7 linked regions of the Homo sapiens genome follow. The protein of the gene in region 3 purifies or fractionates together with the protein of the main gene of each other region. This does not show direct contact. Each region holds a gene or a part of one and is shown on either strand. Other genes may lie near its edges. The genes, in order: FAR2, SLC25A17, SLC39A12, POM121C, NT5C3A, MANEA and PODXL2.

What was found.
Region 1: the proteins of SLC39A12 (region 3) and FAR2 purify together in Homo sapiens (affinity purification with mass spectrometry; 3 studies listed by BioGRID and IntAct, with this or other methods). This does not show direct contact.
Region 2: the proteins of SLC39A12 (region 3) and SLC25A17 purify together in Homo sapiens (affinity purification with mass spectrometry; 3 studies listed by BioGRID and IntAct, with this or other methods). This does not show direct contact.
Region 4: the proteins of SLC39A12 (region 3) and POM121C purify together in Homo sapiens (affinity purification with mass spectrometry; 3 studies listed by BioGRID and IntAct, with this or other methods). This does not show direct contact.
Region 5: the proteins of SLC39A12 (region 3) and NT5C3A purify together in Homo sapiens (affinity purification with mass spectrometry; 3 studies listed by BioGRID and IntAct, with this or other methods). This does not show direct contact.
Region 6: the proteins of SLC39A12 (region 3) and MANEA purify together in Homo sapiens (affinity purification with mass spectrometry; 3 studies listed by BioGRID and IntAct, with this or other methods). This does not show direct contact.
Region 7: the proteins of SLC39A12 (region 3) and PODXL2 purify together in Homo sapiens (affinity purification with mass spectrometry; 3 studies listed by BioGRID and IntAct, with this or other methods). This does not show direct contact.

The regions. Positions count from the first base shown.
Region 1 is NC_000012.12:29,309,778-29,313,277, reverse strand, and holds part of FAR2 (fatty acyl-CoA reductase 2), read right to left. Parts: exon of another isoform or gene 3,375-3,500; intron 2,251-3,374; coding exon 2,132-2,250; intron 1,396-2,131; coding exon 1,328-1,395; intron 1-1,327. UniProt on the Homo sapiens protein: Catalyzes the reduction of saturated but not unsaturated C16 or C18 fatty acyl-CoA to fatty alcohols (FAls). A lower activity can be observed with shorter fatty acyl-CoA substrates.
Region 2 is NC_000022.11:40,774,347-40,777,846, reverse strand, and holds part of SLC25A17 (peroxisomal membrane protein PMP34), read left to right. Parts: intron 1-473; coding exon 474-619; intron 620-711; coding exon 712-807; intron 808-3,500.
Region 3 is NC_000010.11:18,041,352-18,043,785, reverse strand, and holds the end of SLC39A12 (zinc transporter ZIP12 isoform 1 precursor), read right to left. Parts: intron 1,082-2,434; coding exon 953-1,081; 3' UTR 501-952; downstream 1-500. UniProt on the Homo sapiens protein: Uniporter that promotes Zn(2+) import from the extracellular space to the cytoplasm across the cell membrane. The transport activity is temperature dependent. May play a role in neurulation and neurite extension.
Region 4 is NC_000007.14:75,423,800-75,427,299, forward strand, and holds part of POM121C (nuclear envelope pore membrane protein POM 121C), read right to left. Parts: intron 2,655-3,500; coding exon 2,563-2,654; intron 1,910-2,562; coding exon 1,836-1,909; intron 1,397-1,835; coding exon 1,275-1,396; intron 830-1,274; coding exon 727-829; intron 427-726; coding exon 250-426; intron 1-249. UniProt on the Homo sapiens protein: Essential component of the nuclear pore complex (NPC). The repeat-containing domain may be involved in anchoring components of the pore complex to the pore membrane. When overexpressed in cells induces the formation of cytoplasmic annulate lamellae (AL).
Region 5 is NC_000007.14:33,059,977-33,063,994, forward strand, and holds the start of NT5C3A (cytosolic 5'-nucleotidase 3A), read right to left. Parts: upstream 2,801-4,018; 5' UTR 2,730-2,800; coding exon 2,592-2,729; intron 1-2,591. UniProt on the Homo sapiens protein: Nucleotidase which shows specific activity towards cytidine monophosphate (CMP) and 7-methylguanosine monophosphate (m(7)GMP). CMP seems to be the preferred substrate.
Region 6 is NC_000006.12:95,605,035-95,608,534, forward strand, and holds part of MANEA (glycoprotein endo-alpha-1,2-mannosidase), read left to right. Parts: intron 1-713; coding exon 714-1,371; 3' UTR 1,372-3,500.
Region 7 is NC_000003.12:127,639,185-127,642,684, forward strand, and holds part of PODXL2 (podocalyxin-like protein 2 precursor), read left to right. Parts: intron 1-60; coding exon 61-339; intron 340-3,500. UniProt on the Homo sapiens protein: Acts as a ligand for vascular selectins. Mediates rapid rolling of leukocytes over vascular surfaces through high affinity divalent cation-dependent interactions with E-, P- and L-selectins.

The sequences.
Region 1 (3,500 bases), on a different chromosome or scaffold from region 3:
AGTTATGCACAGGTTGATAGCATAAGAGATTCTGATATCCCATGTTCACCGACCCAGCTGTCTGTCACTCCTTGTAATGTCACCTGAGGCTATGTATGTTCAACCTCCTATGGCATGGCTACTGCTCCTAGTAGGAAGCATTTTGATCCCTCTTAACCCTGGTAGGAAACACAAACTAATTTAATTTGAATGCAACATCAGATTAATTAGTAATATCTTCCAGAAATGCTATATTAGATGGGAATCTAGAACAGAGCCTTGGCACAGGAAGAAACAATGTTGTATCAGCCAACAATGTTTGCTATAGGTGTAAGAGGAGGAGAGAAAAATACCTGCATGCCAGGTATTTTCCATTCTTGGAAAAGCATTTTTCAATTCAAAGCCTATTATAAAATGAGCCACAGTGTCTAGCTGCCCTGCAATAGAACTCTCAGTGTGGCACCATGGCTTACCACTGGAATGTGTAGAGGTAGTGTTACCTATGTAACAGGGAAAGAAAGTGTGCATTAGTAGGTAGTAAGAAATCCTACAGAATAGCCAAACTCCCTACTTTAACTTTCTACCATCATTAGATGTTTAAGTTGTACTCAACTCTATTTCCATGGTTTTATACATTGAACAGATCCAATCCTTTACATTCAGACAGATCAATCATTTGTATAGTACAGGGTTTCTCTGTTTCACCAAGCATCAAGAATCATCTAGATGCTTATTAAACATATAGTTTCCTCAGCACCACCCAAGACCTTGGTCCCAGGGTTCAAGGAATCTGGGTGTTGTTTTTATTTCTCCCATAGTGCTTCCTATTCACTTTTACAAATCGCTAGTGGAGTGGTTATTGCACACCTGAGAGGCAAGCTGCATAAATTAATGATCAGTATGATGGACTCAATAACAAAGGATTAATATCACCTAACTTTTCTATCTCATTGGTCATTGATGATGTCGCATTCTCAGTGACATATCAAGAAGGGAAGGGGTGTGTGTAGGAGCCATTGCTCCAACAGGGAGGAGTATTTCAGTATTTTATCACTGACATTCTTTATAACTGCCAACTTTTGCTTTGTTTCATCATTTTTAAAATCGCTATAGCCAATGGACCCCTTACTGCTTACAATCTTGTACATGTTGCCACTGACTCCTTTCTTTGGTAACCACAGTACATTCTAGTTAACTATCACACATTTACAATTTCTCATTATTTTGTCTCTTTACTTACTTTTTGTCTTTCTCCCCATATAAGCTCTAAGCTCCATGACACACTTTGTCAACTTTTTCTCTGTGCCAGACACTAGTAATTATAGAGTTACATAGCTAAAGTACTTACCCATTTTGTGCCAATTGCAGGGATTCATGTTACCAGATGTAATGTGGTAGACTAATGTTGACTTAGGTCTGGAAAATGAAATAAAAATTAGATAAGTACAACAAAATAGAAAACTAATGAGAGAAAAATAAGGAAAAATAATATTTAGACAGAGTGGTTTCAGTAATTCATCTGATTAAGGCAACCTATGAAAGGCTTCCATCGTTCATTCTTTCTCTGGGTTAATAAGCAAAATGGAAGAAGACTAGGAAAAGCATGTGTGTGTGTGTGTGTGTGTGTGTGTGAAAGAGATGTTAAATAGGAGTGACATATTATGGAGTACATATATGTGAGTTCACATAAGAAAAATTTAATTTACTAACAGACCCAAATATATGAACAACCTATTTTTTTTCCTTTGTACCAGGAAGCTTCCCCACACATCGTGACTGAACTTTTGGCATTTACCAGAGTTCAATTAAAAAAAAATTCTGTCATTTCATCAGCTTCTATCTCCTTTGCCCTAAAAGAGAAAGCTGAATTTTAGACTACTGAATAGAAAGAAAAGCCTTTTGGTTATCAAGAATTTTATGGTTAAGTGATTTAAAGGTTTTATTACTTTATGAGTAGCCAAGTACTAAACTGTATTTATAAAACAACTCAATGCATATATGATGGCATATTAGGAACTCTATAAAATATTGAAATACGCACTTTCACACATTTGGGGTCTTGTACAATGAAATGCCTATATTTGGAAAATGGGCCTAATATATTCACTCTGCCCCTCATGAAGTCTTTGAAAGCCCACTTGAGCATCCACACCTGTGAACTGCAGTATACCATCCTACAGCTAGCATGAGATTGACGACTGTATCAACTGGAATTACGTCTGCCACAGCCATTGGAGTAGCTTTTATGGCCCGAAGAAACCCTTTCCCAGTCTGCATAGGAAAAAGAACATAAAATATTAAACCAGGTCTTAAATAATAGCTGGGGCTAAAGTATGTATCATCAAACTGGTTATACTAGTGCAATAAGTGAAAACAGCTAACATTGATCCACTGCTTACCAGGTTCTTATGCTAAGTCTGACTTCCTCAGCCTATCCTACCTTCCCAGCCAAGTGCATGCGTCTCCAGCATTTTCATGAACTACTAGTGTTCCTCACGTTCCTTTAGGGAATAAAATTCCTCAAATTTGTGAGAGGTTAATAAACTCAATTAACAAACACCAAGAATAAACTTTTACATCTTAAAAATTAATTCATAAGACATGTTAAGAATTAAGGTTATACAAATTTCCCATTAATTTTCCCATTAATATTTGTTTACCATTTCCTTGATGATTTTGTTTTCTGCTAGGGTTTATTAACTTACAAGCAATAGTAGGCACTAAAAGTTTAAGAAATACTTATTTGAAAAACATTAATTGGTGAAATTCCACCATTAATAAAAGAAAACTTTTTTTTTGGCTTGGAAAAATTGCCTTATTATTTACTTTTTATTCAGTATCTTAGTTCACCTCACAGATCACTGATGTTATATAGATGCAAGAATTAGGAATTATTCATGTTAATAATTGGTTGAGTTTATGAAATTGATTCTTTGTGCTTTGCATGTTTCCAACATTGATTTGCAACGATTAGCACTTTCTTATGTTACTCAGTTCTGTTTTCTTATAACTAGCTCCCCTTCTTTTGGACATAAGAAACCAATTTAGAACATTTTAGAAAATGTAAATAAATATGTAGCTTTGCATGTAATGAAAGCCGTTTTGGGATCACGTTAAAATAATGATGTTCTAAGTCACTAAACGTTCACCCCAACTGAACTTTTGTAGAAGAAAGAGTTGAAGGCAGGTGGGAAGCAGAAAGAAAGGGGCTGCTAGAAAAATCAGAAATCGGAAGGAAGATCTTTGTCACTGTTATAATTCACTGTCTCATATCTGTATTGCAATTCATGTTGAACCTAGTTCTGGGAGGAACAGAGTCAGAGTCTGAATCGCAGTCTAAATCCCTAATAAAATTTAAACTCATTTAGATCACTGATTTCCTATTCATTGTACAGAAGAATGAAGTGGGGTTTAGACCCTAAATGCTTCAGTGTGAGCTGTGAAGCCCCACAGCTTGGCTGGATCAATCTGGACTTCGGGCAGATGCGCACTAAGGGCTGCTTACCTAGAGGAGCCACGTT
Region 2 (3,500 bases), on a different chromosome or scaffold from region 3:
ATTAACCGATAAACTTGACCCCAAACTATCATTGCAAGAAAGAAATCTTTTTTTTTTTTTTTTTGGAAATGGAGTCTTGCTCTGTCACCCAGGCTGGAGTGCAGTGGCACAATCTTGGCTCACTGCAACCTCTGCCTCCCGGGTTCAAGCAATTCTCCTGCCTCAGCCCCCCAAGTAGCTGAGATTACAGGTATGCACCGCCACACCTAGCTAATTTTTGTATTTTTAGTAGAGACAGGGTTTCACCATGCTGGCTGGGCTGGTCTCAAACTCCTGACCTCGTGATCCACCCGCCTCGGCCTCCCAAAGTGCTGGGACTACAGGCGTGAGCCATTGCAACCGGCTGCAAGAAGGAAATCTTTATAGAACCAGTATGGTTTGTGTTCTGGGTACATTTCAACAGAATTCATGTTGTCTTCTCTAGTTGGGGGATTGTGATCATGCTTTTCAAAAGTCCCTGATTTCTTGCTTAGATGCTTTTCATCAGATCATTCGCGATGAAGGAATCTCGGCTTTATGGAATGGCACATTTCCCTCATTGCTGTTGGTCTTCAATCCTGCCATCCAGTTCATGTTTTATGAAGGTTTAAAACGGCAGCTTTTAAAGAAACGGATGAAGGTAATCCTTGATTTTGAAAGCAGTAAAATAATTCTGTCTGACACCTTCTTGTTGACTTGATTGATATGGTTTGTTCTTCCTTTGCTTTCCAGCTTTCTTCCTTGGATGTGTTCATCATTGGTGCAGTAGCCAAAGCGATTGCCACCACGGTGACCTATCCCCTGCAGACGGTACAGTCAATTCTGAGGGTGAGTGCTGGAGTTCTCTTCGCATTTAGTCAAACAGCATTCGAATACATGTAGTCTCTTGATTTAAAACAATGTTAATAAAGCAATAAAGCAGTTAGTTGGTATACCAGAATATTCCCTATCTGTTTTTTTTCTTTTCTTTTTTTGAGACAGGATCTCCCTCTGTCACCCAGGTTGGAGTACCGTGGTGCACCATGGGTCTCTATACCCTCGACCTCCTAGGTTCAAGCAGTCCTCCTGCCTCAGCTGCCCAAGTAGCTGAGACTACATACACCACCTTGTCCAGCTAATTTAAAATTTTTTTGTGTGAAGATGGGGTCTCACCATGTTTTCCAGGCTTGTCTCAAAGTCCTGGACTCAAGCGATCCTCCCACCTTGGCCTTCCAAAGTGCTGGGATTATAGGCATGAACCATTGTGCCTGGCCCCCATTTTTTCATTTGTTTGATATTCTGCTTAACTAGGCTGGCTGTCATTGGTTTAGAATGAAGTTTGCATTTGTAATTTCTTAGGTAACATAATGTCTCAGAAAACACAGATGTGGAGACAAGTTCCTTAAAGACCTCAGGAAAGCATAAGTTTGCTTCCTTCTCATTCAAGTTGATTGGTTTGGTGCCCCAGCAGGGATTATCCTTTACAAAGTCAGAGGTTAATTCCTTTAGTTCACTCAGGAGGAATGAATGATTTAGCTTTTTTGAAGCACTCTCAAACTTCTGTTTTTTATTTCATTCAGTTATTTATCCATTCAAATATTTACTAAGCATCCACACTGTGGGAGGACCTGGGCATGCAGTGGTAAATAAAAGTCATAATCCCTGCCCTTATGGAGCTAGTGGAAGAGAGAATGAACAGGTAAACAAGCAAAATAAATAGGTAATTACAAATTGAAAAAAGAACTATAAAGGAAATTATTTACTGGAGAGGGGCATGGTGGGGCTCTTCTTAGATAGCATGATTGGAGGTGGGCTTCTTTGAGAAGGAATATTTAAATCAAGATGCAAAGGAGGGTAAGGCCCTAGTGGGGCAGAGTGGACGAAAGTGCATTCCAGGCAGGGGGAGCATGATGTGTGTGTTAGTCCATTCTCATGCTGCTCTAAAGGACTGCCTGAGACTGGGTAATTTATAAAGGAAAGAGGTTTAATTGACTCACATTTCAGCATGGCTGGGGGGCCTCAGGAAACTTACAATCATGGTGGAAGGGGAAGCAAACATGTCCTTCTTCACATGGCGGCAGCAAGGACAAGTGCAGGGGGAACTCCTCCTATAAAACCATCAGATCGGTTGGGCGCGGTGGCTCACGCCTGTAATCCCAGCACTTTGGGAGGCCGAGGCGGGTGGATCATGAGGTCAGGAGATCGAGACCATCCTGGCTAACAAGGTGAAACCCCGTCTCTACTAAAAATACAAAAAATTAGCCGGGCGCGGTGGCGGGCGCCTGTAGTCCCAGCTACTCGGGAGGCTGAGGCAGGAGAATGGCGTGAACCCGGGAAGCGGAGCTTGCAGTGAGCCGAGATTGCGCCACTGCAGTCCGCAGTCCGGCCTGGGCGACAGAGCGAGACTCCGTCTCAAAAAAAAAAAAAAAAAAAAAAAAAAAAAAAAAAAAAACCATCAGATCTCATGAGACTTATTCACTACCACAAGAACAGTATAGGGGAAACCACCCCCATGATTTAGTTATCTCCACCTGGCCCTGCCCTTGACTTGTGGGGATTATTACAATTCAAGGTGAGATTTGGATGGGGACACAGCCAAACCATATCAATGTACTAAGAATTTGGTGTATCCTAGGGACTGAAAGAAGGCCTCTATGGCAGTAGAGTGGCTCAGGGTGAGATTGCAAGAGCAGCAGGGAAACTGTAGGTGAGGAATGTAGATTTTTATCCTCAGCACTTTAAGCTGAGAATATGTGATGGGAAGGGCTTTAAGCTGGGGAATATGTGCTGTGATTTACAATTGAAGAAGACTGTTGTGGCTATTATGTGGTGAATTGGTCAGAAAGCTAAGAGAGAAAGCCAGGGGCAATCTAGTAGGAGGCCATTTCAGTAATACAGGCAAGAGAGGATGGTGGCCTGGACCACGGTGGTGGCACTGGAGAGGAGAGGGGTAGGATGAGGACAGATTCAAGATCTGTTTTGGAGAAAAATTTCAAAAGGCTTGTTGCTAGATAAAATAGGGGTGGTAGTGAGAATATTCCAGTTCAGAAAAATTAGTACCTTCTGTTAAAAGCATTTTTACTAATATATTATTTTAAAATTGGTACTTAACATAAGGGAATTCAGTAGCATCCTTATAAATGTATTTTAACACTTTTATAATGTAAACACATAATCTGAAGAGCTTAGACTGCAGATGTTCTAAATGATTCATTTCTCAGAATTTCTTAAAGAAGTGGAAGTTATTACCATCAATATCTAAATCATCATCCTGGGCATATTTTTTTCTTTTGAGGTAGAATTTTCCCTATACCTCTCTATAAAATGAAAATTATTATGCTTGCTTCATTGAAAAATTTTTCTTAGGCCGGACATGGTGGCTCATGCCTGTAATCCCAGAACTTCGGGAGGCCGAGGTGGGTGGATCATTTGAGGTCAGGAATTCGAGACCAGCCTGGCCAACATGGTGAAACCACATCTCTGCTAAAAATACAAAAATTAGCCGGGCGTGGTGGTACATGTCTATAATCCCAACTACTCGG
Region 3 (2,434 bases):
AATAGCATTTAAAAAATAAGAAAAATATAAGGCATCTGTTTTCTAAGAAAACTGACTAAAGCCAGGGTTATTTTCTGTTTCAACACTTTCGCTAGGTTATCAGTAAATTGCATGTACATTTCATGAACTTACCTATTGAAATCCTGTTCAGGATTCTGTTTCCTCAGAAAGAAGATAAAATATATCTCACGTGTTAGTGAGATTATTCCCATAAATATTCTCTGTTAAATCTGTGAGAGTTTAGGCATTCATCTACTGCCTGACTCCAGTTTTGTTACTTTAAAAATTTTGAACTTCATCTTATGTTTCCAGCTCCCCTTGCCTGGAACAGATTTCATTTGACGACTTACATAGAAGAATGCTGACATGTTATCCTTTAGGTCTCCCAAAATGGCTTGTTCACAAGCGCTCTAGAGTCAGTGGGTGAACTATACATTGTTTTTTTAAGAGATGACTCAGAATCTGACATCCAGTAACAGAAGGTAATAAAAACCACCATATTAAAACTAGTCTTTATTACATTTGCTTGTCACTTAACTTGCTTATAGTTTATAATTGCACAGGGAAAAAAATTAACATCAAAAAGTTGCAGTTGATTTTACTCCAACAGGCATCTGTCCACTTTAAATTCTACAAACATTCTTTCTTAGGGAAAAAATCTATTTTTTAAAGTTTACTAAAATTCATGCAGAATTTACTAACTACTTTTTAAAAAGCAAGAGCTTCATCATGGTGTTGGAAACCAAAGACAAAATTTCAATTAAGGACAGTCTGATATTTATATGTTTCCAAAAATAAAACTGCATTATAAAATTAATAAGTTAATGAATTGAAAGAGACACACTTTGCCTAAGATAAAAAATTCTTAATTTAAAAATCATTATAGAGTGCAATGAAAGAAACAAAGTAAGACTATATAAATGCATTTTTGAAAGATGTTGAAGATCCTCACTTATATTTTAATATTTTGCTCATATATAGCCAAGAGCAGGAGAGAAAGCCAACCTAGGATCAATCCAAAGTTTTGCAGGAGAAACATCATCCAGGGTCGTTGTGTTTGAACATGAGTCATTTCAGGAAGCTAAAAAAAGAATAAAAAACCAGAATAAGATCCAGATATATTCAACTGCTGGGAAAAGCTTGGTGGGAAAACATGAGCGACTGTTATTCAGAACTTAATAACCTTTAAAATTCCCAAAACAGTTACAAAATGCTGAATACCTACTCTACCATGTCTTTGAAATGTAAGCTAAAAGTAAGCCATTTGATTGTGGTTATGAGGATCCCAGGATTGGCAAAGTCTTTTTTTTTTTTTTTTTTTTCTTTTGAGGCAGGGTCTTTGCCCTGTCACCCAGGCTGGAGTGCAATGGCTGCGATCACATTTCACAGCAACCTCCTGGGCTCCAGCAATCCTCTCACCTCAGCCTTCCAGGTGCGTGCCATTGCACCCAGCTAATTTTTGCATTTTTTTGTAGAGATGGGGTTTCCCTGTATTGCCCAGGCAGGTCTCAAGCTCCTGGGCTCAAGCAACCTGCATGTTGCGGCCTCCCAAAGTGCTGGGGCTTATAGGCGTGAGCCACTGCACCTGGCCTTTGGTAGAAGTCTTAAAATGACATAGTTACCAACCAAAAACAAACCCAACTCTTACTTTTCAGAAAATGTTTAAATGTGAAGTAAATAATGCATCAAAATTATTATTTTGGACTGTTCTATTAGGCTTATAGAACTACTATATGCACAGGTTGATGTAAGGCATATATACATATTATGGGAGGAGGGAGGAAGAAAAGGAGAGAGAGAGAGCGATGACTAAGATCCTCCTGATCTTTAGAACAGTAAGGACATTATCTCCTGTGGCTACATATATATATGTATACATATATACATATACATATATGTGTGTATATATATACATATACATATGTATGTACATATATATACGTATACATATGTATGTACATACATATACGTATACATATGTATATACATATAGACACATATGTATATACATATGTATACATATGTATACACATATATACATGTATATACATATATACACATATATACATATGTATATACATATATATACACATATATACATATGTATATACATATATATACACATATATACATATGTATATACATATATATACACATATATACATATGTATATACATATATATACACATATATATGGTGTGTGTATGTATGTGTGTGTGTATGTGTGCGTGTGTGTGTGTGTGTGTGTGTATATATATACATATATATATATATAAAGTTTTTTTTTTTTGAGACAGAGTCTCACTCTGTCACCCAGGCTGGAGTGCAGTGGTGGGATCTCAGCTTACTGCAATGTCTGCCTCCCGGGTTCAAGCAATTCTCCTGCCTCAGCCTCCTGAGTAGCTAGGACTACAGGCATGTGCTGCCACACTCG
Region 4 (3,500 bases), on a different chromosome or scaffold from region 3:
AAATGAGGAAGGCGAGGCTCAGGGCAGCTAAGCCAGGCTTCAGATCCTGAGCGTCGCAGCACCCCTTCTCTAACACTTCCTGATGTGGGCTCCGGCGCTGTTAAACGTAGGCCCGCTCCGGTGTGCTGAGCCAGGGTGCGTTCGGCCTGCAGAGCAATCTCCAGCGACTGACAGGCACGACGCCCTTATTCCAACCCAAGCCGGGGATGCTGCTCAGAAGGCTGGATCCACGGCCCCACTCCAGCTCACCTGGGCAGGGTGGCAGGCTCGGGGGAGTCTGCATCTTCTTCAAGCTCTCTAACAGTGGGTTGGTGCTTGGGGCCAGGAGGGAGGTGGGTGGGGAGGCAGTTGCAGCAGCAGGCAGGGTAAAGGTAAATGAAGGCTGAGTGGTAGGTGGGGTCTCAGTGACAGAGTTCGAGGCAGCATCTAAGAAAGAAAGAAAGGTGAAGCAGTCCTGGCTTGTCTGGGACTTCTTTCCACATGCCTGTCGGAGAGCAGGCTCTCAGCACAGCTCATGGAGGAATGTCTGCCCTAAATTGCAGTAGTCCCTGCTGTCCAGTTCCCGTGAAGACCAACACGGATATCTCAGGTGAGAAAGACCACAAGAAAACATGGAACTCTACTTCGGATTTTCCCAGAGAAACCCATTTTTCCAAACACCAAAATAAAACCAAAGAAAACAGACACCTGAAACCTCTCGAGAGTGCAACGATCTGTGCTCCTTACCACTCTTGTCCTCCAAGGCCTGGTTGAACCACTGTAATGAAGCCTTCTTCTCTAAGTCTAGGTCCTCGGCAGTGATCGAATAGCCAAGCTGGGGAGGTGGAGGCTACCAAAGAGAAAAAGAAGAAGTCAGGCCAATCAGAAAAAACGGGAAGGCTGGGCGTGGTGGCTAACGCCGGTAATCTCAGCACTCTGGGAGGCCAAGCCAGCTGGATCACTTGAGGTCAGGAGTTTGAGGCTGGCCTGGCCAACATGGTGAAACCCCATCTCTACTAAAAATACAAAAAATTAGTCAGGCGTGGTAGCAAGCGCCTGTAATCCCAGCTACTTGGGAGGCTGAGGCAGGAGAATTGCTTGAACTCAGGAGGCAGAGGTTACGGTTAGCCAAAATCGAGCCACTGAACTCCAGCCTGGGTGACAGAGGGATGTTGTCTCAAAAAACAAAAACAAAAATAAGTTAGAAAAAAAAACAGAAGAAACTTGTCCTTAGCGTTCCTAAGACTTAGGAGAGCTAAGCCGGGGAGGGCAGGAGTAGATGGACAAGACCATACCAAGGTCAGCTGTTCCCCTCGCCGAGAAGGCAGCAGCTGAACTTTCCGCTTACGCTGCCCAGAGCTGCCAGGTGTAGACTGAGAATTCGAGTTTTGTTTCTTCCTTGGGGTTGTATCTGCAGCTAAAGAAAGAAATCAAGACTCGTTTGCTTCCTTCCCTCTTCCAGAAATGGATGGTTGTGTCTACCCACTTCGCATTTCACACTGAGTTTTCAATGATGGTATCTCTGAAAAGATTCAATCTTCTATGGTTTGGTTGCTTGGATGGTGTTTGTAAGATTAAGGCGCGCACACAAACCGCTTACTGTGCAGTAATTACTGGGATCACCCACAGGTGACTCAAACTGAGCTTACCTCTATCCAATCGTTAGCCCCCATCTGTAGCCTTTCTCCCTCATCAGACTATAAACTTCTGAAGGAGAGGAAATCTCTCTCTTTGTATCTAACATGCCTTAGACATAGCAATGCTCAAGACCTTTTTTCAATAGGTATTAATCTCTACATCCTCCACAAATACCTCCACCACCAACAGCAGCCCCTCCTCCTGGCTCAGCAACCTACCCTTTTCTCCCTGGGACTCCTTGTCTGCTGCCAATGGAGTTGAAGAACTGGAATGATGACACAGCTCTTCTTCTCTGTTGGGAAAAAAGGAACAATTTAGTCTAGAAAGACTTCTTGGCTGAAGTATTAAATAATTTCTCACACCCTCCTAACTACCAAGTGGCCAACATCTAAAACAACCATCATTTAAGATCTCAGTATGCCAGGATAAAAAAAGTCAACAGGAAATTCCAACAGAATGAAGGGAGGCTGTTCACAGAGGCCATGAAGACAGTTTTTGTCTTAAAACAAGCACAAAACAATAATCTTCAAACCTTACTTACAACCTACCAAGTCCCTGGGAGTTCTAGACACAGATGTGATCCCTGAGGGAGTGGCATTCCAGCCAACTGCAAGCACCTAGGGGATCAGCTCGAGTCAAGAACCTGAAGGCGACTGCCCGCTGACTTGACTCTCTCTGCTCTCCACTCTGCATGGCCTCTGTGCTTGCACCCGATCCCTCATGCTGGAGTGGGAGGCGACAGCCAGAGGCCACTGGAGTCAGTATCCAAGACTGTAGGGATGATAGTTGTTCAGGTGGGTGCTGCATTGTCCCTCTCAGGGACTTAGTTTCTTTGATTCTCCAAGTCACAGCAGCACAAAGCCTAAGAGCCAGGTTCGTTTCCCACCTTTCCTCACCCCCTTCTGTCCACGTAGCAAATGAAAACTGCAGGAGAATGCCGAATACCTTATTTTCTTTGCTGGCCTCTCCGGTGTCTGGGAGCGGGATGAGGCTGGGCTAGAGAAGGGTGATGAACTGGGGCCATTTCTCTTCCACAGCTAAAAATCAAGAGGGACATGACTGAGCCTGCTGATAACTTAGCATCTGACCCTCAACATGACAAAGTCTCTTTTTAAGTGACTAAAAAAATATTTTTTATGGTTAAATGGTTAGTCATGCCTGTAATCCCAGCATGCTGGGAGGCCAAGGTGGGAGGATTGCTTGAGCCCAGGAGTTTGAGACCAGCCTGGGTAACATAGCGAGACCCCCGTCTCTACAAAAAATTGAAAAATCAGTTGGGTGTGGTGGTTTGCATCTGTGGTCCCAACTACTCAGGAGGCTGCAGTGAGCTGAGATTGCCCCACTGCACTCCAGCCTGGGTGACAGAGTGAGACCCTGTCTCAAAAAAAAAAAAAAAAAAAAAAAAATAGAAAATGAAAATGAAAAAAATTTGTTTGTGAAGAAAGACCCCTGAAAAGAAAGTCAACTGCCAGTATTAATTATGAAAGCAAAAAAAGAAAAGTCTATAAAAGTAATGGAATGTGAATAAAGGTAGAAGGGATGGACACACTTTTGCATATATTAGCCTCAGTAATGAAGAGCCAGGACACATTCAAACCTGTGCCAGACTGTCTACGGAAAGGATACAAGTAAATTAAAGAAGACAACCCAGTAAACTAATTTAGTCTTGCTTCCATTAAATTTTCGATTTTTCATTTAGTAACTTCATTTTAAAAATACGCTGTCATGGCCAGGCGTGGTGGCTCACGCCTGTAATCCCAGCACTTTGGGAGGCCAAGGGGGGTGGATCACGAGGTCAGGAGATGGAGACCATCTTGGCTAACACAGTGAAATCCCATCTCTACTAAAAATACAAAAAAATACAAAAAATTAGCTGGGCGTGG
Region 5 (4,018 bases), on a different chromosome or scaffold from region 3:
TGGGTGACTCTGTCACCCAAGCTTGAGTGCAATGGTGTGATCACGACTCACTGCAGCCTCGACCACCTTGACTGAAGAGATTTCACCTTCGGCCCCTAAGTAGGTGGGACTACACTACAAGTGTGTGCCACTGCACTGGCTAAAATCTTTATTTTCTGTAGAGAAAGGGTCTCCCTATGCCGCCCAGGCTGGTCTCGAACTCCTGGGCTCAAGGGATCCTCCCGCCTCAGCCTCCAAAAGTGCTGGGATTGCAGGCGTGAGCCACTGTACCCTGCCAAAGCAAACCTTTGATGATCCTTTGTTGCAAAATAAAGAGCAAACTCTTTATAATGGCTTTACAAAATTCCTTTACAATTCAGTTTCTTGATCCCATTCCGTATCTTGCTTTCCTTCTTTTTTTTTTTTTTTTTTTTTTTTTTGAGACAGGGTTCTCCCACCTCACCCTCCCAAAGTGCTGGGATTACAGGTGTGAGCCACCATGCCTAGCCATGACTGGCTTCTTCTGTACATTAATCTTGCTGCCCTATGGGATATTTCAGCTGTAGCATACACAACCCACTAGCAACTTCCTCATGTCTCTCAATTAAAAACTCTTGCAAGACAATGCATCATTTTGACCAAGTCCCAGAAGTTATTGGTTTTCTTAGCCAGTTAGATAGGCCCAACTTGGTTAGGTAGTTAACTCCGTTAGCTGTGACCAATATGAGCTATGTCTGTTGGACATCATGGGTTTGCAGAGATTTTTCTGAGGGAGGAGGGCAGAGGATGGGCAGAGCAGACCTACATTATTACAGAAAGATGGAACTAGGATTCCAACCCAGGTCTTCTGACCCCCAGTCAAATACTTCTTCCACTTGAAGAAGCAACCTATTAAAATTAAAAAAGTTAACATGAAGCTCTTTTCACTTTTTCCATTGAAAAGCTACTAGCAGGCTACACATATATTACAATCTGAATTAATATACTATGCATACATGTAAATATTGACTGATTTCTTTAGTACCAATAAGTTGGTATTCTAGATAGGTCTTCATTATTTGTCACAAAGATAGCAAACTGTTCCTATGATGGTATCATTGAAGGATTTTGTGAACACACTGATTTTTAACCTTACTTGGCTTAGATAAGTGGTATACAGACCAATCCATAGTTTAAGCACAGGCAGGGAGATATGGCAACTCGGTTTTTTCCCCTACATAGGCATTATTAACCTTGGGCAAAAGAAAGCCAAGTTTTCTAAGCAGGAAAGCAACAAAAGCAAAATGAAACTTCTGAGTTAAAACCATTTGCTGCTGTGGGCATACAGATGTGGGACAAATGAATTTTAATAAGCCTTTAGAATTATTAAGACCCTTTAAGAATAAATTAATTCAAAATTAGGGAATATTATTGGAATATGAGACAAGTGGGAATTAACTTTTTTTTTTAAGAGACAGGGTCTCGCTATGTTTCCCAGGCTGGAGTGCAGTAGCTATCCACAGGTGTGATTATAACCTTGAACTCCCAGACTCCAGTGATCTTCCTCTCAGCCTCCCAAATAGCTGGGACACTGGCTAATTTTAATTATGCAAATACATCTGTATTCAACCTGGGGTCAGTACAACCAATAGGACAAATCGTGTCTTTCGTCAGTTGGAACATATTGCAGGTGCTCAGAAATTCCAAGTATTACACCCTAAAATGATATTATTTAGTGTAGATTTTAAATTTTTTTCTATCATAAATCATCTGACCCTAGATGTTCACATGTATAGCACACGGTCAGGCGTATACCCAGGATTATGCATTTCAGGAAATACATAAGCGTGCAAGTTTGTGCAAGAATTGTCTTCCTGAGTGGGTTCTAATTAAAATACAAAACGAAACTAAATATCCTCATTTTTGAAACAATTACTTATAATGTATCTCAAAGGGAATTCTTGAGACACCCTCTTCAATAAAAAATTAAATTCGAAAATGTATACAAGAGCTTTGGGAGTTAAGATGAAAACAAAGATATTTCGTGGGAGTTTTGAGACAAGAAGGAATACATTCAAATACAAAATAAACTATCCTGAATTTCTCCTGGATTGCCATTCTTGTAAAATTTTAGATATTGCACATTTTCATAATCTAACTCACGGCAGCCCCAACATAAAACTAGTCCTCTGCGGGAATTGCAACTAGATTAGCGGCAACGGTTTGACGCGGATCCGGGGGGAGGGCGGGAGCAAGGCAGGGAGAGAAGGAGCCACCTGCCCAGGACATGCAGCTTATCTCTAGAGAAACGGGTTTTGCAGCACAAAGTAGCCTGTGTCCGATTCATCTATTTTCTGCCTTGTTCCTTCAAACGGAAACCTAACAAAGACCACGGGCAGCCAAGGGCCGCAGCCGGGGACCCAACCCTGGTCACCAAGCCCGCGGAGTGGCCGCACGCGGGGCGGCCGGGTCCCCCAAGCTGCGCGTCCCGAGCTAGCGAGATCCCAGCCTGACAGGCGACGCCGGCAGCTCCCCGTCGCGACCGAACAGCGGCCCAGCACAGGCTGCCGAGGCCAGCGGACGGCCCAGCCGGCCCCTCGCGTGCTCTGGGCGCGCCGAGCCTCCACACTCACCATCTCGATGATCTTGGTCTTCCGCCCCGTCTTCCTCTTCAAGGTGAATATGTACTGAGCCAGCACCACCCCCGCCACCAGGGCGCACACGCTGGCGCTCGCTACCGCGCCCACCCTCGCCACGGCCGCGCGGTCCATGGACGGGGCCCTCATGCGCGTCCAAGCAGGAAAAAAACAGGCAGCTCGCGTAGACTGCGAGTCTCGGAAGCGCGGGATCCCAGAGCATCACGGACGAGCCCGCGACGCCCCGCCCCGCGCAGCGACGCCCCGCCCCGCGCAGCTCCGCCCCCACGAAGCCCCACCCACACGCCATCGATGGGAGAGGCCAGGACGCGGCGGGAGGGGTGTGGCCTGTGCCCGGAGCCCAGGCTGGAGGCGGCCTTCAGCAGACTCAGGGTCTCACGAGCTGCTGTCAGGGCAGGGCAGAGTATTGCGGTAATTATCCTTCTCTGCTAATGAGGATTAGGCCGTGGTTCGCTCGAGCCCCGCCCCAGTAGAAATCTAATTCCAACTGCGGCCCGCTAAGAAGTCGGTCTCCGCCTTCGCGCCTCAGCCCCTCTGGACTCCGACCCCCAGAAGGCTGCGCGGCACGGTGTGACCTGCGCAGTGGCGTCCGTTCTAAGTGCTATAACAACAGGGGGAAGATGGCTCAGAGTTAGGCTGGAGAGGGGCGGTGTCCCTTCCGCCGCAGCCGCGGGGTTTCTGCTACATCCCATTCGCCACCTCCGCCATCCTTTTTTCTGTGTGAGCAGAAGGGCTTGCAGTTGTTCTCTCCTGCCTAGTGTCTTCCAAGGGATAGATGCCATTTCTTCTGCTGGTCTCTGGGGGTGAGGAGGGGCGCAGGGGAGCTTCTTGGGGGAATCGCTCCAACTCTGTGGAGCTGGTGGTGCTGCCTGGTGGGGCTCTCTCTGCCCAGGACGTGGAACAACTTTCAGCCGGAGGACTAGAGGAAATAGTTGTAGGGGAGGAAAAATTGTTTCCTTCTAGCCTTTTAGGTCATTTGGCTGGTCTACAAATTAAATTGATGTAAGACAGAGGAACATGAGAAAAACGATTTGTCGACCGAAAGGTGAAATAACAGGTACTAAAACTTAAAGAAATCATGGTTAGTTTTATTACTCGGCCAAGTTTGAGGACTTAAGCCTGGGAACACAGACTCAGTATAGACCGAGAACGTGTCCCAAAGTAAGTTAGCTGGGAGTATAACCTGAAGAAGACTGAGTTTTAATACCCAGAATATTTGAGTATCAATATCTAGACTACTGTGTCATTTTGTCGCCAAAGTAATTTTTTATGAATCCAGTTTTGCACCAAATACCAATATGACTTAAATGTTGTCTGATTGTGAGGCCTAAGATGGTCACAGTCTCATTTATCTTTCTTCCTCAACAAAAACATTTTCCATATATTACATATTATTTTGAATG
Region 6 (3,500 bases), on a different chromosome or scaffold from region 3:
TTATTGTAATGAATGTCACCATCATTTCGAAGAACATTGCTGAAGTTTCTTATAATTCACTTTCTTTTTGGAAGATTGCTGTTTTTACTGTTTTACAGGTTTATAGGCTATTTATGATTTCTGTAGTTTTGATATTTTAAAATGACATTATTTTCTAAACCTTCAGAATATAGCTTTATCTTTTTAAAAAGAAGGTTCAGATTATTAAAAGTGAACTACTTCTTTTAACACAGTAGACCCAGAGCTGATATTTTCATTTATATCTAGCCTGATCAAAAAGAATTTATTAATACAGTTTTCATTTTTTGAAAGAATTTTACTGATAATAGTCTGTGACAGATGCCATAGTCTTACAAAGAAACTTGTCAGCAACAGTAGAACATTTATCACTGATAGATAAAAAAGCAGTTTAGGTATTATGTAGAGTATTATTTATAATGTAGAGACATAGGCTTTTTATGGCATTAGTCATCATTTGTAAACCTCAATATGAGATGGTTAATACTTGTTTGGTAATGCATCCAGTATCTCATTTTCTAATGTGTAAAATTAAAAATGCATTTTTAATTATTACACTTACACAACTGATTCCCCTAAGAAATGGAGCAGTGTGCTCAAACTGCACTGACTCCTTCATTTTCAGTAAACAGTTTTTGTCTGTGGCAAATTAGTTGTGAATATTCATTTCACTTTTATATATGCTTATTTTCTAGATATGGAAATCATCCGGCCTTTTACAGGTACAAGACGAAGACTGGCAATGCTCTTCCTATGTTTTATGTCTATGATTCCTATATTACCAAGCCTGAAAAATGGGCCAATCTGTTAACCACCTCAGGGTCTCGGAGTATTCGCAATTCTCCTTATGATGGACTGTTTATTGCCCTTCTGGTAGAAGAAAAACATAAGTATGATATTCTTCAAAGTGGTTTTGATGGAATTTACACATATTTTGCCACAAATGGCTTTACTTATGGCTCATCACATCAGAATTGGGCTAGCCTAAAATTATTTTGTGATAAATACAACTTAATATTTATCCCAAGTGTGGGCCCAGGATACATAGATACCAGCATCCGTCCATGGAACACGCAAAACACTCGGAACCGAATCAATGGGAAGTATTATGAAATTGGTCTGAGTGCCGCACTTCAGACACGCCCCAGCTTAATTTCTATCACCTCTTTTAATGAGTGGCATGAAGGAACTCAGATTGAAAAAGCTGTTCCCAAAAGAACCAGTAATACAGTGTACCTAGATTACCGTCCTCATAAACCAGGTCTTTACCTAGAACTGACTCGCAAGTGGTCTGAAAAATACAGTAAGGAAAGAGCAACTTATGCATTAGATCGCCAGCTGCCTGTTTCTTAATGCATTGATTAAAGTTTAATAGTTATCAAAATCACCTAATTTTTAAAAATAGCTTTCGTTTTGAGTTCTGGAAAGAAAACTGTCAAAATCAGTATATACTATTAGTTATATTTAAAAATATTTTTTTAAATTCTTTACAGATAATATTATACTTGTTACCCTTCACAATACCACATGAGAAAATATCTGAGACAAAATGTATACAAATATATTCCTTATGGCATAATTTATTGCATTTCTGACTGAAATCAAAATTCTGATTTGATGGCAATTGAATTTTCATTTTACAATAGATAAATGCTTGTGCTACCTAAAGCACTTAGCACACAGTTAAATTATATTTACATCCTAGACCCAAATAAATAGGATTGTGTGTATATTTGGGATATCTATTGAAGAAAAAAAGAAAACCCCTTAAAGATAATGTACATGCTTCATGTCATGTCTTTAAAATAATTTAATCAACTTTATTGTCTTAGTATTTAGACTCTGGATAACTCTACAATAATGAGGAAATTCTTAAGAATAACAAAATCACTGTACCTTCCTCTCAATTTTGCTGTGAACCTGAAATGGCTTTAAATTAATACTCTTATTTTTTATTTAATTTAATTACATAAATTAAACCTTACCATGACCAAATTGTGTTAGGACGGCCTGCTATCTACAGCACAGTGTGTCATTTGCAGATTTGTGGTTACCTATACCACGCTAGGTGTTTTGACATGTTTAGTGTTTCTGCTTTACAGTGCTGAATTCCATATTTTAGAAGCTATGAAAGTCCTTTTATGAAAAAGTTACTGATTGCTTCTCAGTTATTAGGAAAACAGTTGTTTCACAATTATTATGTAGATATGATGCCCAAATATCATTTTTAGTATATCTTGTCGATCTTTAAGTTGTTACTATTGTGTTATTCATGTCTTTAAATCAGATACCAAATATTTTTTAGGAAAGAAAAATGTTATTACTGTCATTAGGTTGTCTTTTAATACTTTAAGTTATTTTGACGAAAAGTAATAGAGAAAATTTACTTAGCATTTTAGATTCTAGAGACATGGAAATGAAAATTATTTTATGTCTAGAGTAGGTCCTGAAGTTTGGCTTTACATTAAGTTTAGCACTGTATCAGAATGAAGAAACTAATATTTTACATAAAAACTAATACTTTCAATTTTTTATATAGTAATATCCCCATTTTGTAAATGTTAGACTTTTATCATACCTGTAAGTTAAAATACTTGTTATCAATAACTTGTCATGTTGTGACAAATTGATCACTTGTGTACGAAAAATAAATCTCCTTAAAAACTAAATAAAATGCACTGTATTCTTACAGTTAATGTTTATAACTATAGTAAAAAATTAATATATATCCTATTACATAAATGTTATTTCTTAGGTGTTCCATTAAGAAGAGCAATAGAATAATGCTAAAAAATAATGCCTATAAATCTTCAGAGTATAAAGACATCCATTCAGAAACAAAAATTAGCACTAAATTTTTTATAAAATAGACCAGATGACAAAATTTATTTTATTTTTAAACAGTGGTTTTGACACAAATTATGTTATTGAAAAGCATTATTAATGTTTAATTTATTTAAAATTTTGGAATTTGCCATTTCTCAGAGAATGATCAGGCCTTAGGAAATTAATACAGTAGTAGTAATCATTTTCTAGGGGAAAATAAAAGAATAAATCACTATACTGATATTTTGATACAAGCAAGCACTTACATGGTAATCACTATATAGATCCAACCTGTGGATTTTCTTCTTATGTCCATTTAACTAGAATATATTATTTTAGGTATAATTTACAAATGTCACACCTAATAATCTTTTATAATATACCATATTTCATTAAAGTTTTGTTAGAGAAGTATCTACCACAGAGGAGTTTTTGTCATTGTGTACGTTGTGTATTTGAACCCACCATGACAGAAAGTAAATTTTAGGAAATAGTTATGAGATTAAGGGAAAATCTATAAAAACAAGGTTAGCATATTCTCAACACAGATACCACCACTTTCTTTTTCCCATTATAGACATGGTGAATCCACACAGCATACTTCATCTCTGAGCTTTGTTGTGATTCCTCAACACATTACCCTAACCAGCCAGCAG
Region 7 (3,500 bases), on a different chromosome or scaffold from region 3:
GGCACCAGTCTTGTGTCTTCTCTAGCCTCCCCTGACTGTCTGGCTTTTATGTCTGCACAGGAGCGTTCCTGGGTGCCTGTGTGGCTGGGTCTGATGAGCCTGGCCCAGAGGGCCTCACCTCCACCTCCCTGCTAGACCTCCTGCTGCCCACTGGCTTGGAGCCACTGGACTCAGAGGAGCCTAGTGAGACCATGGGCCTGGGAGCTGGGCTGGGAGCCCCTGGCTCAGGCTTCCCCAGCGAAGAGAATGAAGAGTCTCGGATTCTGCAGCCACCACAGTACTTCTGGGAAGAGGAGGAAGAGCTGAATGACTCAAGTCTGGACCTGGGACCCACTGCAGGTAGCTCTTCTTACCTACAGAGCATGTGTTGAGTGCCAGCCAAGTGTCTAGGCAAAACACCAGGTGACCATTTCCTTGCCAGAAGCATCTCTTCTCTCTCCCTACAGTTTTTACCATGCTGCTGCTGTTTACCTGCACATCAGAGCAAAGGCTCTGGGACCCTGAATGTCTCACAGGCCCAGGAGGCCCTTTCTCTTTAATACTAACCACTGTTTAGGGAGCCTTTATTCTGTGCTCATTTAATTCAATCTGATGCTTATAACCTGAGAGATAAGTAATATGACCCCCCTTGTAGACAAGAAAACACTGAGACTGAGAGGTTAAAAGCTGGCCTGAGGTCAAACAGCAGCTCAGATGCTCAGTCATGATTCAGACCTATGGCTTTCCAAGCCCTGGGGCTCATTGTTTTGTTTTTCCCTACTGCTCTATGCTGTCTCTGTTGAAGATTGCCACAAGGTCAGCTGATCCATGTTTCCTTGAGTCTATCCGACCAGCAATTGAGGCATTCTAACCGCCCTTCCCTCAGTCATGCACCAGAGCTAGAGCTGGTGTTTGGATCTACAGAGCCCAGCTGGTGAACATTTGGGTCCCGAAGAAAGCCCGAGGCCTAGGGCTCCAGGTTTGAATGCCCACCGCCATGAGCTGACATTGATACAGATGCAGGCATGGCCCCTCCACCAATGTCCTGGGCCAGCAGGGCCCCATCTCTTAGTAGGGACTGAGGAATTGGTGTGATTGTGTGTGCACATGGGGCAAGGTGTTACAGAACTTAACCTTTAATTTTTCTTTTTAAAATAGGTAATATTTATTGGATTTACCTTTTCTAATTATAAAAGAACACATGAACATTGTAGAAAATCTGAAACACACAAAAATAATACAAAGAAGAAAATAAGGCTGGGTGTGGTGGCTCACGTCTGTAATCCCAGCACTTTGGGAGGCTGAGGCGGGTGGATCACTTGGGGTCAGGAGTTTGAGAACAGCCTGGCCAACATGGTGAAACCCTGTCTCCACTAAAAATACAAAAATTAGCTGGACATGATTGCGGGCATCTGTAATCCCATCTACTCAGGAGGCTGAGGCAGGAGAATGGCTTGAACCCGGGAGGTGGAGGTTGCAGTGAGCTGAGATCGCACCACTGCTCTCCAGCCTGGGCGACAAGAACAAAACTCTATCTCAAAAAAAAATAAAATAAAATAAAAAATAAAAACTACCTATAACCTGATAATTGAAAGATAATTACTATTAGTAGTTTGGGGATACATTGTTCTAGTCACTTTATGTGCAAAATTGGAATCATAGGGACATTTTGTTTTCACTCAAAATATTTCATAAGTATATTTCCGCATTGTTAAATATCCATTTATAACCTGATTTTTAAACATGTTATTATTTATTTATTTTTTTGAGATGGAGTCTTGCTCTGTCACCTGGGCTAGAGTGCAGTGGCGTGACCTTGGCTCACTGTAACCTTCATTTCCTGAGTTCAAGTGATTCTCCTGCCTCAGCCTCCGAGTAGCTGGGATTACAGGCATGCGCCATCACACCCAGCTAATTTTTGTATTTTTAGTAAAGACAGGGTTTCACCATGTTGGCCAGGCTGGTCTCTAACTCCTGACCTCAAGTGATCTGCCCGTCTCGGCCTCCCAAAGTGCTGGGATTACAGGTCTGAGCCACCGCACCCGGACAACATGTTATTATTTATTTATTTATGTTTAGAGTTGAGGTTTTGCTCCATTGTTCAGGTGTGATCATAGTTCACTGTAACCTCGAACTCCTGGGCTCAAGCGATCCTCCCACCTCAGCCTCGTAGGTAGCAGGGACCAAAAATGTGCCACCATGCCTGACTAATTTTTTCATTTTTTTGTAGTGATGGGGTCTTGCTATGTTGCCCAGGCTGGTCTTGAACTCCTGGGCTCAAGCGATCCTCCTCCCTTGGCCTCCCAAAGTGCTAAGATTATAGCTGTGAACCACTGTGCCTGGCTTATAACTTGATTTTTTTTTCTTGAGACGGAGTTTTGCTCTTGTTGCCCAGGCTGGAGTGCAGTGGTGCCATCTTGGCTCACCACAACCTCCGCCTCCCAGGTTCAAGCGGTTGTCCTGCCTCAGCCTCCTGAGTAGCTGGGATCATAGGCATGTGCCACCATGCCCGAATAATTTTGTATTTTTTTTAGTAGAGACAGGGTTTCTCCATGTTGGTCAGGCTAGTCTCGAACTCCTGACCTCAGGTGATGTGCCCACCTCGGCCTCCCAAAGTGCTGGGATTACAGGCATGAGCCACCGTGCCCAGCCCTGATTTTTAACAACTACGTTATATTTCATCATGTGGGTCATCAGGTGTATTAAACTGGTTCCCTACTGTTGAATACTTAGGTTGTCTTCAGTTTTAATTCTGCTACAAATATCCTTACACATTTTCGCACCTTCCTGGTGGTTTCCTTAGGATAAATTTCTAGAATAAAATTGATAGGTCAAAAGATGTATTAGGGCCGGGCACGTGGCTCACGCCTGTGATTCCGGCACTTTGGGAGTTCGAGGTGGGCAGATCATGAGGTCCGGAGTTCGAGACCAGCCTGGCCAACATGGTGTAACTCCGTCTCTACTAAAAATACAAAAATTAGCCAGGTGTGGTGGCGGACGCCTGTGAACCTAGCTACTCAGGAGGCTGAGGCAGGAGAGTTGCTTGAACCTGGGAGGTGGAGGTTGCAGTGAGCTGAGATTGCACCACTGCACTCCAGCCTGGGGGACAGAGCGAGACTCCATCTCAGAAAAAAAAAAAAAAAAAGATGTATCAGTCAGCATCCCACGCGGAAACAGAAGACACAATCAAATTAAAACAATCTAAGGAGAGTTTGTTTATGAAGCAGCAGATTTATGAAGGTATGGGCTGGATACAGGTGAACTACCAAAGGACTCACAAGTCCTTTGGCTAAGGATCTGTGGCTAGCAACAGCTGAGTGCTTACCATCTCTAGGCACAGTGAGACCAGGGAAGGGATGAAGATGGGAGCCTGCAGGGAAAGTGGTGTAGAGAGGTGGCCAGATATGGGAGGAGACGAAGAGAATGAACGCCGCACCCCCCACCAAGTGTTCTCTCTTTCCCTTGTCAGTTTGATAGGAAAAATTATAATGGCCTTTGATTACTAGTATATTTTAACTCAT